2 separate regions of the Homo sapiens genome follow, and region 2 is reported to be linked to region 1. Evidence: microRNA targets listed by miRTarBase, many of them from high-throughput screens and not tested one by one. Region 1 holds a microRNA gene; the other region holds the end of a gene's coding sequence.

What was found. The annotated mature microRNA hsa-miR-3664-3p reads UCUCAGGAGUAAAGACAGAGUU and lies in region 1 at 2,594-2,615, shown strand. An mRNA with a match to its seed (bases 2 to 7 or 8) in the 3' UTR can be bound and repressed. Matches are read on the target gene's strand: a 7mer-m8 pairs with bases 2 to 8, a 7mer-A1 pairs with bases 2 to 7 and ends in A, and an 8mer does both.
Region 2: miRTarBase lists CASKIN2 as a target of hsa-miR-3664-3p. Seed matches in the 3' UTR shown: 7mer-A1 at 1,104-1,110 and 7mer-A1 at 1,353-1,359.

What each region holds. Positions count from the first base shown.
Region 1 is chr11:70,867,160-70,874,903 of GRCh38, reverse strand. MIR3664 (microRNA 3664) reads left to right here and starts at 2,536; the gene lies at 2,536-2,634. The region is part of intron 11 of SHANK2 (SH3 and multiple ankyrin repeat domains 2); the gene reads left to right.
Region 2 is chr17:75,494,773-75,501,772 of GRCh38, reverse strand. CASKIN2 (CASK interacting protein 2) reads left to right here. Exons shown (of 20, transcript NM_020753.5): 19 at 83-305; 20 at 603-1,512. The coding sequence ends at 693. It overlaps TMEM94 (transmembrane protein 94), which reads right to left. Exons shown (of 32, transcript NM_014738.6): 19 at 6,965-7,000; 20 at 6,739-6,877; 21 at 6,374-6,489; 22 at 6,130-6,229; 23 at 5,699-5,807; 24 at 5,302-5,491; 25 at 4,966-5,043; 26 at 4,575-4,660; 27 at 3,911-3,992; 28 at 3,450-3,598; 29 at 3,235-3,329; 30 at 3,051-3,144; 31 at 2,691-2,861; 32 at 1,321-2,511. The coding sequence ends at 2,439. It overlaps MIR6785 (microRNA 6785), which reads right to left and starts at 3,225; the gene lies at 3,145-3,225.

The DNA.
Region 1 (7,744 bases):
AGGGTCCGGAATGGCCTGGTCTCCATGCCCTGTGATCACCATTCCTGCTATTACACGGTAGATTTGAAACAGACATGAGGGCACAGTAACTATAAAGACAAAGTGAACTCGTGTTCCTTCAGTGCTGTCATTCTAGGTAGCCACTCGGAGTTTTCATCTGTGTTTAAAATTTGAAACGGCAGTGGATGTGAACTACAAGGTGGAATTTTTTTTTTTTTTTTTTTTTTTTAGTAAATGCAGATATGCAGATTTCAATGCTTACATGAACTATTTTATTGGATTTGGATAATACCTTTAAAATTGACATTCATTCTTTCAAAATATTTGGTTTTAAAACTGATGCACAAATCAATAAAATGATGGTTATTACATGACTGTTAATGAAAATAATTTTGCCATACAGAGGAAGGGCATGTGCCTGTAGTTCCAGCTTCTCAGGAGGCTGAGGCAGGAGGGTTGCTTGAGTTCAGGAGTTGTAGGCTACAGTGAGCTACGGCTGGGCCAGTGCACTCCAGTGTGTGTAACAGAGACCCTGTCTCAATAGATAGATTAGATAGATAGATAAATCATGGATAGATAGATAGATTACATATAAATAGATTAGATAGATTAGATAGATTAGATTAGATTAGATTGGATTAGATTAGATTAGAGGGATAGCTGGATGGGTGAATGGATAGATAGATGGAGTATATAGATATGGATGGATGGATGGACAGATTAGGTAGGTAGGTAGATAGATTAGATAGATATGGATAGATGGATATGGATAGATAGGATAGATTAGATAGATGGATTGATAGATAAGATGGATGGATGGATGAATGGATGGATCTATAGGTAGATGGATAGATGGCTAGATGGAGGAATTTCTGTGTACTGTTCACATGTTCTTTAGTCTGTTCAAAAATGTACTTTGCATTGGGATGCTGCCCCCAGCCTGCCTACATCATGCCTTTTTCCTGATGACACGTGTTCCTGTCACTGACGCCCGGGAGCTGTTTTTGAGGGCAGCTTGCCCAGCGTGCTAGTGACAGGAGGCTGGTGCTAGGAATGAAGGTTATTTGGTCTTCTCACTGGCATCACTGTTTGGTATTCTAATCCCATGAGATCGTTGTAAACAATAGCAAAGTTGTTCATGAACTGGCAAAAAAAAAAAAAATGGTAAATGGAGGAAGCAATGGCTGGCTGTGAGCAGGGGACGCACTCAATGTCCTTTGCAGAGTGAGCAGGGTGGATTAAGTGGTTGCTGCGGGCTCTGGCCTGTGCTGCCATCTTTGCAGTGACCCTGAAGAAGAGAACTGCCCCAGATGGGACTGTGGAACGTCTCTCCTGAAGAAGCCCCGAAAGGGTGTGTGGCAGCCGCTCCTCCTTCATGGGACCACTGCTAGAAGGTTAGGGATCCCAACTGCCTCACCTCTGGGCAGCCCCTCCTCCTCCACGGAACTGCTGTTGGAAGGTTAGGGATCCTGCCTGCCTCCCCTCTGCTGTTTCCCATTTCCTGTTTGCCTATTGAAAGTGTCTGGGGCCGTTGGGCCCTCCTGTCTCATGAATGGGTGTGATTCCTGGAAGCCCTGCAAGTCTCGACCTTGTCAGCTCTCACCTGCCCTCCTCTTCCTCATGGGTTTTGTCAGAGGATGTTAATGCCTTCCAAGCAAATTGTATCAAATGCATTTGAAAGGCAAAACTCATTGTTTAGTGTCTGAGAATAGCCTCTGAGTGCTGGGATGCCACGGTTGCTGTGGCAACGGCTCTTTGTTTTAGGGAACCACAAACATATCATTCTATAAACTGCAGGGCCCAAGCTGCAGGTTTCACCTTCCTGAGGGTCGCCACCCGGGAGGCAGAGGCACCAGGATGGACGTGGGAACTACCTCCGCTCTTCCTTTCTCACAGGTGCCCAGGATGTCTTTAGCTTTTGTAATGTTTGGGGCTGGGGGAGGTGGAGGTCATGAGTGTGGGGAGAGGGCAGACAGTGGATATGTGCTCCTCCTGCCCCGAGGAGCTGGGCTCTACAGGGCATCGTGGGGTCCCTTCCTCTTAGCAATCAATGCCATGTTCCACTGTGGCCCCAGACTCCAGCACCAAGCAAAGCAGCCCCCACGACCCTTAGGACAATGAGGGGTGAAAATTGCCACCCATCAGTTTTCAAGTGGTCAGTGTGGAGGAAAACAGGGACCCGCAGGTGGCCAGAACGTGGAGGAGATACACCAGGGAGCCGGAAGTAATGTGGTCCAGGGACCCATCTCTCATTCCACGTAGCTCACGGACCTGTGTGCCCCTGACTCTGGTCTGTGGGGGGCCCCTCTGTATGGGGGCCCCCTATTCCCTCCATCTGAGGGTCTCTCTTCCCTCCATCCAGCCACTTGGTCGTTTGCACCCACTGTGTCCACCAAGCGCTTCTAGGGAAGGGTCTTGTCCTTTTTTCTCCCCGTCCCGCCGAGCCTCCACCTCCAAGCCTGCATCCTACTTGTCTTTCCTCTTCATGCGTGTGGGGTTTTTTTCCCCTCCTTTCCACTGTGCACCCCGTCTCCTCTGTAAACTTGAAGGTAGGGAACTCTGTCTTCACTCATGAGTACCTTCCAACACGAGCTCTCAGGAGTAAAGACAGAGTTCCCTACCTTCAATGTGGATCTGCAAAAAGATCTGAAAAGCGAATGCCTTCTCCGTAGCTCGTTGGCAGTAGTACTTGACCTGAACTGATTTGAGGCTATTTATAGTTTTTATTTATCCTACTTAGCATGATTATTCATCCGTGCCCTGAAGGACTCCTCCCGCAATTGGCAATGGGACACTGCCCAGACCCACTGGCGGTGTGACGTAACAGGCCACACACGCATCATCCTACTGCTGCAGAAGCAGGCAGCGTGCACATGCCAAGGCACCTCTGGCTCTGGTGTTCAGGGATGTCGTCGTGGGGCTGTATTTGTTGAATGAACAAGAGTTCTTAATCCAAGAATAATGCTGGGTTTACCTTTCAAGTAGTTCAAAGGCTTCTTTCAAGACGGTGTTGTTATGGAGGATGGGATGCGTCTTGCCTTAAATATTAATAGAAATCGTATATGGAAATCTCAGACGGCTTCAAAGAGTCTCTCAGTCAAATTCAGATGGGGACTGTGCCTCTTTCCTGGCTGTCCCCTCCCAGCCCCCATGTGGCCACAGTTTGCTGTAAAACCCTGCAGGGCCCCTGAGTACCAGGTGTGTCTGGCCCGTGTTGCCTTTCAACATGAACTCTTTCTTGACTTTCTTCTCCATCAGGGATATGGTCATATTTATAATATTTGTCTCGACCTCACTTTCCTTTCTCTCCCTGCCCTGCTTGTTCAGCAAATGTGTTGGGGAATCCGCAGGGTCCCAGGCACAGCCTCTCCCTCCAGGGGCTCACAGGCTCCATGGCACACAGATGTGGCCTCAGCACGTGAAGGAGGCTCAGTGCCAGGCTATGTGGCTCATCTCAGAAGGTGGTGTGGCCCCAGGTTCTGTGGTTGCCCTTGCTCTGCTCTCTGCTCCCCACCCCCGCCCATCCTGCCCTGCTCCTATGGTGCCAGTGATCTTCGGGGCTGGTGGCTTGCAGAGCGCTCCCTGGACCTCCTCTTGGACCCTCAGACTCATCTCCTGCAGAGCCTGCCACCAGGCGAGCCCAGACCCCTGACTCCCCTTTGAAGTGTGTCCCTGCAAATGCATATGTTGAAGTATCACCCTGAGGATCTCAGAGTGTGACCTTGTTTAGAGGTAGGGTCTTTACAGAAGTCATCAGCTGAAAATGAGGTCATTAGATTGGGCCCTAATCCAGTAGGACTGATATTCTTATAAAAAGAGGAAATGGGACCGGGTGCAGTGGCTCATGCTTATAATCCCAGCACTTTGGGAGGCTGAGGCGGATGGATCACCTGAAGTCAGGAGTTCGAGACCAGCCTGGCCAACATGGTGAAACCCCGTCTCTACTAAAAATACAAAGATTAGCCGGGCGTGGTGGCGGGTGCCTGTAGTCCCAGCTACTTGGGTGGCTGAGGCAGGAGAATCACTTGAATCTGTGTGGGCGGAGGCTGCAGTGAGCCGAGATCGTGCCACTGCACTCCAGCCTGGGCGACACAGCAAGACTCCATCTCAAATAAATAAATGAATGAATGAATGAATGAAATGTGGCCACAGCCATGCACTCGGAGCAAACCTCACACAAAGATGAAGGCAGAGCTCTGGGTGATGCTTCTGTCAGTCAAGGAATGCCAAAGATTGCCTACAGGCCACTGGGAGCTGGAGAGACAGGCCTGGAACAGAGTCTCCCTGCAGTCCCCAGTGTGAACCCCCCCACTGCCAACACCTTGACCTCAGACTTCCAACCTCCAGAACCATGAGACAATTCATCCCTGTGGTTTCAGTCACCCAGGCTGTGGTTACAGGAGCTCCAGTGAACATACCCCATCTTTCCTGGCCAGCTGGCCCTTCCTCCTGGGCACCCCATCTCAGTTATGGCCCAGGAACTGAAAACCCAAAAACCTTCCTAGATCTTTCCTGGCGCTCACCTGCCCTTTTCCCATCTGTCCAGAACCAGCCCCTTCCACTTTTTCTATTTCCTGAATCTGCCCCTCCCTCCCCACTGGTTGGGCTCTCATTTTGGCCCAGATGGACTGCAGGAGGGGACGGCTCTGGGTCTCACCCCGGGTTCATTTCTCTCAGTCCCCTGGAACGAAGTGGAGCACACTCTGCCTGGGTGAGCCTCCAGCACTCAGATTCTGCTGCTGTGCTCATCCTCAAACCTCTTCCATAGTGCCCTGGGCCACACTCTCTTTATAAGGACACTAATTATTGGATTTAGGACCCTCCCTAATCCAGTATTACCTCGTCGCAACCTCACTGATCACATCTGCAAGGAGGCAATGACCCATTTCCAGTTAAGGCCCCATTCGTAGGTTCTGGGTGGACATGGATTTGGGGGGACACTCTTGTGGACTTTTGTGAGGGTTTCTGGGTGTGTGAGAAGGCAGAGCCTGGGGAGCTTCAGGCAGAGGGGAGGCATTCACATAATTGGTGGTGAGGTCCCTGCACTGACCCAGCGGCGACTGAGCACCCAGTGCGGCAGTAAGTGACCACAGTGTCAGTTCTCATCCCATCTTCCAACAACACCACCATGGACTCCCCGTCGAGCCCCCTGTCTGGGGGAGGACAATCAAGGAGATGATGGGGACATGCCAAGATGACACGGTGGTCACCGAGCCCAGGGTGCCCAACCCAAGGAAGTATCTGCTGGTTATCAGGTTTCTAGCCCAGGACACAGAGCAGACAGAGTGCTGTGGACGGTCAGGAGCTCCATACCCGAGCCTGGCTTGGTGGAGAGGCCATAGGCAGCAAGGTGGGACAGACAGCCTGCCATGAACCAACTGGTCTGCACAACTTTGCCGTGAAATATGAAAGCCTCCTACAGCACAGGCTGAGATTGGAAGCATTAATCACTCTGGTATGGGATGTGTGGAGTTCTGTTGGTCCCAGTGGGTTTAATAACGTGCCGATCGGTGCATCCCAAGCATTCTGTGGCCTGTGGACCGATACATTGTCCTCCCTCTGAAACCTGCTGGTCTGGAGGCCTCTAGGACAGATTGTCGGGATCTATGGTGTATGAGTTTGCTCCAGCTGCCGTCATAAAGCACCACAGACAGGGAGGCTTACACAAGTCATTTATCGTCTCACCGTTTTGGAGGCTGGAAGGCTGAGATCAAGGGGTCTCTGGACTGGTTCCTCCGGAGACCTCTCTCCTTGGCTTGTAGACTTTGCCTTCTCCCTGTATCCTCATGGGGTCATCCCTCTGTATGTCTGTGTCCTGATCTCTTCTTGTAAGGACGCCAGTTGGATTGGATTTAGGACCTGCCCCATCTGGCCTCACTTTAATTTAGTTGCCTCTTTAAAGCCCATCTCCCTATACAGTCGCACACATGCTGATATCCTGGGGGTGAAGCCTGCGTCACATGAATTTTGCAGGTGACACAGTTCAGCCTCTAGCACTCAGCGCCCACCTGGATGTGGCTTCTAACTGCAGGACGCCCTCCCCCAACATCCTCTGGACTTTGGCACCCTGGGTGAGAATTGGGCAGGTTTGTGGAAGAGAATGGGTGAGGATGAGGAGGCCGCATGTTGTGTCCAAACAGGGCTTTCCGTGCCAGAGCCCTTTCCCGGATGGGACTTAGGACTGGCCGTGGCAGCTCCAGTGACTGTGCTCCCTGTGTGGGTGGGGCCCTGGGCTGCCCCCGTGGGGTGTGAGGCTGACTGTGTAAGATGTGGACATGGCCCAGCTCAGTCCATAGGCTGAGCCTGGACTCTGGAACCCACCTTCTTGGCTTGTGTCTTGACTCTGCCCTTCACAGGCTGTGTGACTTTGGACAAGTTACTTAACCTCTCTGTGCCACAGTTGCCTCCTCTGTATCACAGGGATAAATAATAGTCAATAGCCTCGTGCCCAGCTAGTAGCAGTGGTGGTAGAGGGACTCTTGACTGTTGTCATTGTTTATTATAGTATTATTTCCATTTTACACATGGAGAAACCGAGGCCTGGGAGTTTATCCAGCTTGACCAGGCTTATCATAGCAGGCACAGGTTATGACCCTGGGGTTGTCCAAGAGCAGATCACACCGCCCCATGTCCGTGGACAGGTGTCCGTATGCCGACCCCCTCAGCCTCTGTGTCTATGCGACCCACCTTCTTCACCTGCACCCTCTGGGCCAAGCCATTGAAAGTGAGAACGAGGGAGTCTTCCTCGAGAAAAGAAACTCTTCATTAGGCTTCATATTTGTGTCTTCAATTATGCTGTCAAATGCTAAGGAGTTTAGACACTTACTGCCAGCGCCGGGCCCTTGGTGACGGCGTACATTATTTGCATAATCAGCACGGGTGGACCCGCTGGTAATTCCACCCAATTATTTGCCCAGAATTGACACTGATCAATTTAGAGGGAGGCACAGTCAGTGATGGAATTAAGTGGTAGCAAACACACTGTCAGTACATGAAGTCCAGACAGAGGCAAACAGCCCAGAGATGGATGGGCGGGAGGCGGGGGCCGGCCGGTGCAGGAGCAGTGGAGGCGGTGGACCTGGGTCCTGTGTGCTGAACGCTGAAATGCTTCCTTGGAAACTTCACAGAGAGTCCTAGGCAATAAAGGTCAGCAGTGGAATATTGTCACAGAATAATGACTCTGTGCCGCTGGGTAAATGTTAAAGCTTTTATTGGGGTGAGACGTGGATGTCTGGCTGGCTCTGAATTCAGTGGGTAATGAATACAAATCTATAGCGTCGATTCTCAAGAGGGAACATGGCTGAGCTGACCCCACATTCACGAGCCGGTGGCCTGGGCAGACTTTTCTGGCTGGGGCAGCGAGGTTGTGAAGGCATCCCTGGCTCAGGCAGCTTTGGCCCGTCCTGCCCCACCCCTCAGCCCTCATGCGCATGCCGTACTCCCCAGCAGTGGACATAGCTGTTTGCTGTTAACAGCGGCTCTTGCCTCTCGTCCTCCGTTGGTGGAGTCCTGGCCTGATCCTTGGCCTCCGGACCTGCTCTCGGCCCTGCTGCCCGTGTGGAGCCAAGACGTGTGCACTCTCCTCATTGGTCCTCCCCTGTGTTCAGGATTTACTGAGGACTCGGACAAGAGCGTCCTTCCACCAGCACCCTCCACCTACCCCTACCCGGATAGGAGACAGCTGACCTCAGGATGGCACCTTCGTATTCTAGAACTTGAGAGAGTCAGAGTGGGGATCCACTAC
Region 2 (7,000 bases), not on the chromosome of region 1:
GGGGAGGCCTGTGGGAGAGTCACTGCTGGCAGGGTTGTGTCTGACCCAGCCAAGTCCCAAGCCAACCTTTTTGTCTCTGCAGGAACAGCCCCCAAGCCTGTGTCGGTGGCCTGCACCCAGCTGGCATTTTCTGGCCCTAAGCTAGCGCCCCGGCTCGGCCCCCGCCCAGTGCCTCCTCCACGGCCTGAGAGCACTGGGACTGTGGGCCCAGGCCAGGCCCAGCAGAGACTGGAGCAGACCAGCTCGTCCCTGGCAGCTGCACTGAGAGCCGCAGAGAAGAGCATTGGCACCAAGGAGCAAGAGGGGTGAGGGGGGCCGGATGGGGAGGGAGAGAAGGCTGCAGAGAAACAGTGCTCCCTGCATCCTCTGCCCAGGGATCATGGGGATGTTGGAGGGGGACATTGCAGGCACTAACGGGATAAGAGGCCAGGTGTTGAAATCACCTAGATCAGGGAATCCTGGTGGCTACCATTTAAGAGGCACAGGAGCCTGGCCGGTCCCTTGCCTCCCTGAGCCTCTGGGAGCTATGACAGCTCCCTGCCCCAGGGCCAGTGGGGTGCAGGCCACTGGCTGATCTGACCGCATCCTTCCCCTTGCTGCAGCACCCCCAGCGCCTCCACCAAGCACATTCTGGATGACATCAGCACCATGTTCGACGCCCTGGCTGACCAGCTGGACGCCATGCTGGACTGAGCCCTCCAGCAGTGCCCACTGTGACCTGCCGAAGTCCACTGCCTTTGCCCCAGCACAGAAGAGGCCCCTGCCACCCTAGGGACGGGCCAAGGGCTGGTCAGGCTGAAGTGCCCCTCCTAGCAGGGCCCCTTCCCACTCAGCCCGCGGCTGTGGGCACCACAGCTCTTGTGGGGCAGCCCACCTTAGAACCTGACTAGCGAGGGACCTCCGCTGCATCTCAGCAAAGCCCCTCCCAGGGTTTGATCGATTGAGCAGGACAGCCCTGCTCCTGGACAGGGACCCTGGTAAGAGCTCTCTCCTCAGGGAGGAAGTAGGGGTGGGGCTTTGGGGGTGCTTTCTCTGTACCCCCCAGCCCATGTCCCAAGTTGTGCCAAGGGAATGCCTCTTGCCACCCACCATCCTGCCCAGGCCCTGAGAGGCTGGAGGAGGCGTGTGTCTGGCCGGGCCCCCTCTCCGTAGGTGTACAGAGGACATGTAAATACACAGCGGTGGTGCCCAGGCAGCTCCTGCCCCCGCCTTCCCTCACTGAGGCAGGGCTAGCAGGGGTGGGAGGCAGTGGGGTTAACAGATCCCACAAGTCCTAACTTTTCAATTGTAAATGTTATTTTCTAAGCAGAGAGAAATGCATATATTTTAAATGGAATTTATTCTATCAACTGCCTGAGAGGACACAATGGGGGAGGGGCTTCGGACCACAGCAGGAGCCCCGACTGCCCACCTGAGGGCAGGGAGAGCCTGACCCCATTGGCCCAGGCCCTGGCTCTGTAACCATTAACCTCTTCCCCCAACTAACACCAATGAAAACACCATTCCACGTGACTGGGCTGTGTGTTTGCCTCTGTGACATGGGGACCCCTGACCCTAGGGGTCTCGCCTGAGCCAGACCTGAGGGACCCACCCGCGTAGATGGAGGAAGGTTTAGGCCTCCCTTTGCCAGCCACCGCCGGGGGTGGGCAGACCCTGGAGTGGCCTTACAGACCAGCCACAGGTATTTCTTAGCAATTGACACATTTTAATACAAACCAGTCTACATTCATTCCTAAAAGGCTCATTTCCAGTAAAAAATATACACCAGTAGAAACTTCTCCCAGAACTGGGGCAGAGGCTGAGGAGACCTGGGCCAGATTCCCCAAGACTGACAGGCAGCCAGCTTGAGCCAGGCACAGGAAGAGGCTCCAGGGCGAAGCGGGGGCCCTGCTCCATCTTCAGGTTCAGGCGGGAGACTCCCCCACAGAGGGAGGGAGGGGAGGCACTCGGGGCCACATCCAGGCAAGCACCACCCCCCTGCCCTCCACGGCAGCCTTGGGAGTTGGACGCGTCGGCCAAGGCTGCTGCTGTTGCTCCTCCAAAGAAGGTTGGCTTCAAGGCCGTGTCCAGGGACCCACGAGCAGAGGCACTGGGGGGCAAGGGATCTCCAAGGGGGCAAGGGATCCCTAAAGGGGGTAGCTCACAGGTGAGGGGGTTTAGGGCCCCTCTAGGGAGCGCCTGAGGCCATACATTCAAGAGTGTCCCTGGTGAGGCCCAGGGAAGAGCCAGGACTGGCCAAGGGCCCAGGCCGTCAGCTCCTCCACAGTGAGCCCCAGGGCTCAGGAAGACAGCGGGGTCTGACACGGGGAGCTGGGTTTCCAGTGCCACGGGTGCAGGAGCAAACCTGGAAACATTCATGATACAAACTCCCCTGTTCAGAAATGGGTCTGGCTTTAGCCCCAGGGACGGGGGCAACTACAGCCACCACAGCCAGTGGCTCAGAAGGGAGAGTTCATGCCCAGCTTAGTTTCAAACTGCAGCTTCTGTCGCTTCTGGTAGCGGACTCGGACCCTGGTGGGGCAGGAGATTAAAGTACAGGTTGGCAAAGATCCTTAGACCAGGGGCCGGGGCAGGACACCAGAGGAGGAGGGAGGGATGGGCAGCGGAAAGGTGGGGGAGTGTCGCCAAGGGAGTAACAGGTTTAGGGAACATGCCTGAGCCCAGAGGGAGGCGCCCTGCTGACAGCTCACCGAATCTCATGTAGCTTCACGATCTCATTGGTCACCACCACAAGGACCAGGGACAGGCAGCCCAGGAGCCATGTCAGCAGGGGCACGTCCTCCAGGCCAAAGTGGACGTGGCTGTCCCTGTGTGTCCACAGCTGCAGGTCCACAGCCGTCTGGACCACCTGACCCAGCAGCCTGCAGGAGGTGGCGGCCCCGTGTGAACCCGACACTGCTTGCTTCCTTCCCTGCTCTTCCCAGTACAACAGTTAGCTCAGGCAGGGTACAGTTAAACCACTGGCCCCGGTCCCGCCCTCCGATCCTAGCCCTGCAGAAGGCCCTCTCCTCCCCAGCCCACACTCCGCCCTCCATCCTAGCAATACTCACACCACAGGCACTGTCACGGCCCACCAGAGGTTGGTCAAGGGGCTCTTTCTCCACAGGGGCTTGGTGCGATGCACATGGGTGATGGAAATGAAGACTGGGGAAGGTGGGGCGATGTGGGGGTCAGACTTCCACAGTGGGGCTCCTCTCCCACCATCATCCACGCCCTCCCAGGGAGCCCTCTCACCAGTGTGCAGGACAATCAGGGCGGCCGTGAGCTTCTGAGCCGACAGCAGTCCATTGGCAAAGTCCTCAAACCAGGCTGGAGCCCTGTCGTCGTTGCTGCCAAAGTGAGGCATGGGCTCAGCCCCTCTAGGGCCGCAGGGAGGTAGGCTGGGGTGGGGAGGGAGGAAGCCTCGAGGCGAGGCAGGCGATGGGTGGATCTCTGGGGCTGGGACCCACCTGGGCAGCATGACGGAGGAGCAGTTGGTGAGGTTGCGGTCCCGGGAGCTGTCACAGAAGCTCTGCAGTGTGAAGCCAAAGCAGATGAGGCAGGAGCTGATGGTGAGGCTGAACTTGAGCAGGAAGCAGAGCAGGAAGTAGTGCTGGGTCTGCGGGAACAAGGCCAGTCACTCCTGGGGCGCACAGCCCCTCTGCCGGCTGCTCCTAGCTCTTCCACGTATTCAACGGGCTCTTAGTAAATGGTCAGGCCTGGGGGGATAGGGAGCTCAAGCCCCAGCAAGGGTCTTTCCCAGCTCTGTGCCACTACCTCCTCTTTGATCTGGGGGAAGACTAGGAACCAAGTGCCGGAGTTCTGCTGGAATCCCCCATCCAGAGCCTTCCAGATTAGCCCCTCTCTCCTCCCCCAATCCTCAGTCCCTTCCATGCTCACTTGCAAGGCTCACAGGGTCTGTTTTGCTTACCTTCTTGGGAATGGACTGGAGGTTTTTCCCCGTTGCCATAGACATGATGGAGCTATGGGGGGGCTTCCCCAGCAGAGAGATGCTGAAAAGCAGAGATCAGGTAGAGGGATGGTGACAATGACCCTCTGTCCCTCAATTCTCATAGAGGGAACCTCTAGGGAGTCTTGCGCGTGAGGTCGAGTCTGGTGAGGGGATGGAATAAAACAAAGGCTGGACGGCAGTGGCTCACACCTGTAATCCCAGCACTTTGGGAGGCTGAGATGGGCAGATCATTTGAGGTCAGGAGTTCAAAACCAGCCTCGCCAACATGGCAAAAACCCATCTCTACTAAAAATACAAAAATTAGCCAGGCATGATAGTGGGTGCCTGTAATCCCAGCTACTCAGGGGGCTGAGGCAGGAGAATCACTTGAGCCCGGGAGGCGGAGGTTGCAATGAGCAGAGATTGCACCATTGCACTCCAGCCTGGGTGACAGAGCGAGACTCCATCTCAAAAAAAAAAAAAAAAAAAAAAAAAAAGACAAAGGGGGTTCCCTCCATGCCTCCTGTACCAGAGGAGGTGAGACCTGAGCAGTTCCAGAACCTTGGGCTCCTGGGGCTGCACAGTGACATCCAGACACCTCCTGCTTAGGCATGGGGTGTGGGGAAGATACATGGCATCTCACCTGAGCAGAGGGTAGCAAAAGCAGGACAGCCACAGGATGTCGGTGGTACTCAGGAGTGGCGGCAGCTGGACCAGGCAAGAAAGGAACTAGACCAGGAAAGAAGCCAAGAGCCACAGTTCAATTCAGGCAAATAATAAGGGCATAGGAGCCCCCGAGCTCCCTTGCCCTGGGCCCAGATAGATGCTCACATCCTGCCAGAGGGAACAGGGGCCGGAGGGAATACTCTTCTGCCAATGAGGGTCAGCTCAAAAAGCCCAGGGGCTTCACAGAGGCTCTGGGGGGACCCCTTGACTGTACTGCTAACCCCAGCCTCCTTCCTCAGATTTTCAGCTGGCCCCTGAGTGAAGGGGTGAGTGGCACGGGGGCAATGCCTGTGCGGGCCCCACCTCACCTGGATGACCACAAGAGTCAGCTGGCACTGCAGCAGGAAGAGGAAGCACTTACGGATGCCATAGGTGGCATGCCGAGCCTAGGGACCAAGAGGGACAGATTATGGCCTGGGTCTACCTGGCCTCTCCCAGGCCCAACAGCTGACACACTTTAGCCAAGAGCCAGACGCCCAGGATGCTTCTACGAGGGGAGCAGAGGCGAATGTAACTGCCTGGGAGAGCCCGCTCGGAGGGCTGGGGAATGAGGTCCCCGGGTTCAAACAGGTCCTTTGCTGCTACTCCCACCCCAGGCGGGTCCTGTCCTGCGTCTCTCCTCCTTTGCCTGCCGAAGCACCCACCTGTTCGATAAGCCGGATGATGCTGATGGTCTCCTCCTGGCGAAAGGTCAGGGAACAGGGCAGGCTGTTGAGCTGCCCTGACAGCTGCAGGGGAGAAAGGCCATCCGAGGCCTGGGCCATGCTGATGCTGGTGGCGTAGCCAAAGGTCTCCCAGGAGCAACGGGATGGGTACAGGGGATCCAGGGCAATGCTGCTCAGGGTGGGGGACACACACACTTCAGCTGTATCTCCCACAGGACTGGGCACCCCACCCTCTTCTCCCACCATGCCCAGGTGCATTGGTCCCAGCCAGGGCGAGGTCGGCTATAGTACACACCCCCAGCCCCACGCAGGCCCATCTGATCCTCCGGTCTGGGAGGTAGAGGCTGGCCCGCAGGCTCCAGGGTCCCGCCCTGACCTGATGTCGCTCTGGAGGAAGAGGCAGCTGTTCCGCAGGTTGGCAGAGCTGCCCAGGCAGCAGGTCACCTCCCCGTACTCTTGCATGATCTTTATCATCTCACACATGGCTGAGGACAGCGTATAAGGGCACCAGAGTCAGGCAGGCAGAGCACCAAGTGGGCACTGGGCAGAGACCCATGGGACAGGAGAGCAGGAGGCGATGGGAGGTGGGCCCCTCTTTGAAACAATCCCACCCCCGGCAGCGGGATCATGTGAACATCGGCACTTCTGACTCCAACCCACAAGATTCCCCAGCTGATCCCAGCCCAGGTTCCTTTACTCCCTGCATGGGAAACCTACATCCCTCCAGAGCCCACGGGGTACGCAGGCCCAGGCAGAGCTCAGCCGACGGGACCAGGTTGCCCAAGTACCCATGGCCACAGCACTCACTCTCTGGGGTGCAGTCGGTGAAAAGGGGCACTAGCAGGGGCACGTTGTCAATGTTCTGCAGGTGGGGCCGCACTTGGTGGATACCCCGGGGCAGCTTGGCCTGGAGAAAGCAGAGATGCCAGCGGCTTCGGGATGGGGATCAGCATCCCTCCCCTCCACCGCCTGCCCACCACCTCTCTACCTCTCCCCTGGACCAGCTATGGGACCACTACAGGAACACGTGAGACAGATCCTGCCATCGTACCCGGTTGGAGTCCTCCAGGAAGCTGGGGATGTCGCTGTCCGTAGGCTGGAAGCTGATGAGGTCCGAGTGGCCCTCCTCCTCCATGAGGAGGAGCCCTTCTGCATCATCTCGGGACACTGTGGGGACAAAAGCCTCTCCCTCACCTTGGGACCAGCCTTCTGGGAACCTGTCCTTGCCCTGCAGAGAATTTTTTGCCTGTGTCCACTCCTTCCTGCTGACTACTGTTTCCCGCAGGGACATCAGAGCCATTTCCCAAGGGAATGTACTTAACTGGAGGGCTCTCCGGAGGCTCTTCCTGGCTGTGGCTCTGAGGAGGGGAATCCTCCCACCGCCACCCCGTCCCCACCCCACGCCTTTGCCCTTACCCTGATTCAGGTCATCATGCAGGGAGCCTGCGTGGCTGGGGCTGGAGGGGGGGATCTCGGAGCCAGGCATGTCACCATTGGGTGTGAGGGAGATGTGGCAGTTCCAGCCTGTCTCCAGGCCCATTTTTTCTGCAAACACCTGTGAAAGGCAGACGGCCATGAACATACGGGCCCAAAAGCCCGTGGAAACAGAGTTAGTGGTGGCAGAAGGGATGGCTCTCCCCACCTTGCTTTTGAGCTCATCCTCCAAAGAGAAGTAGAC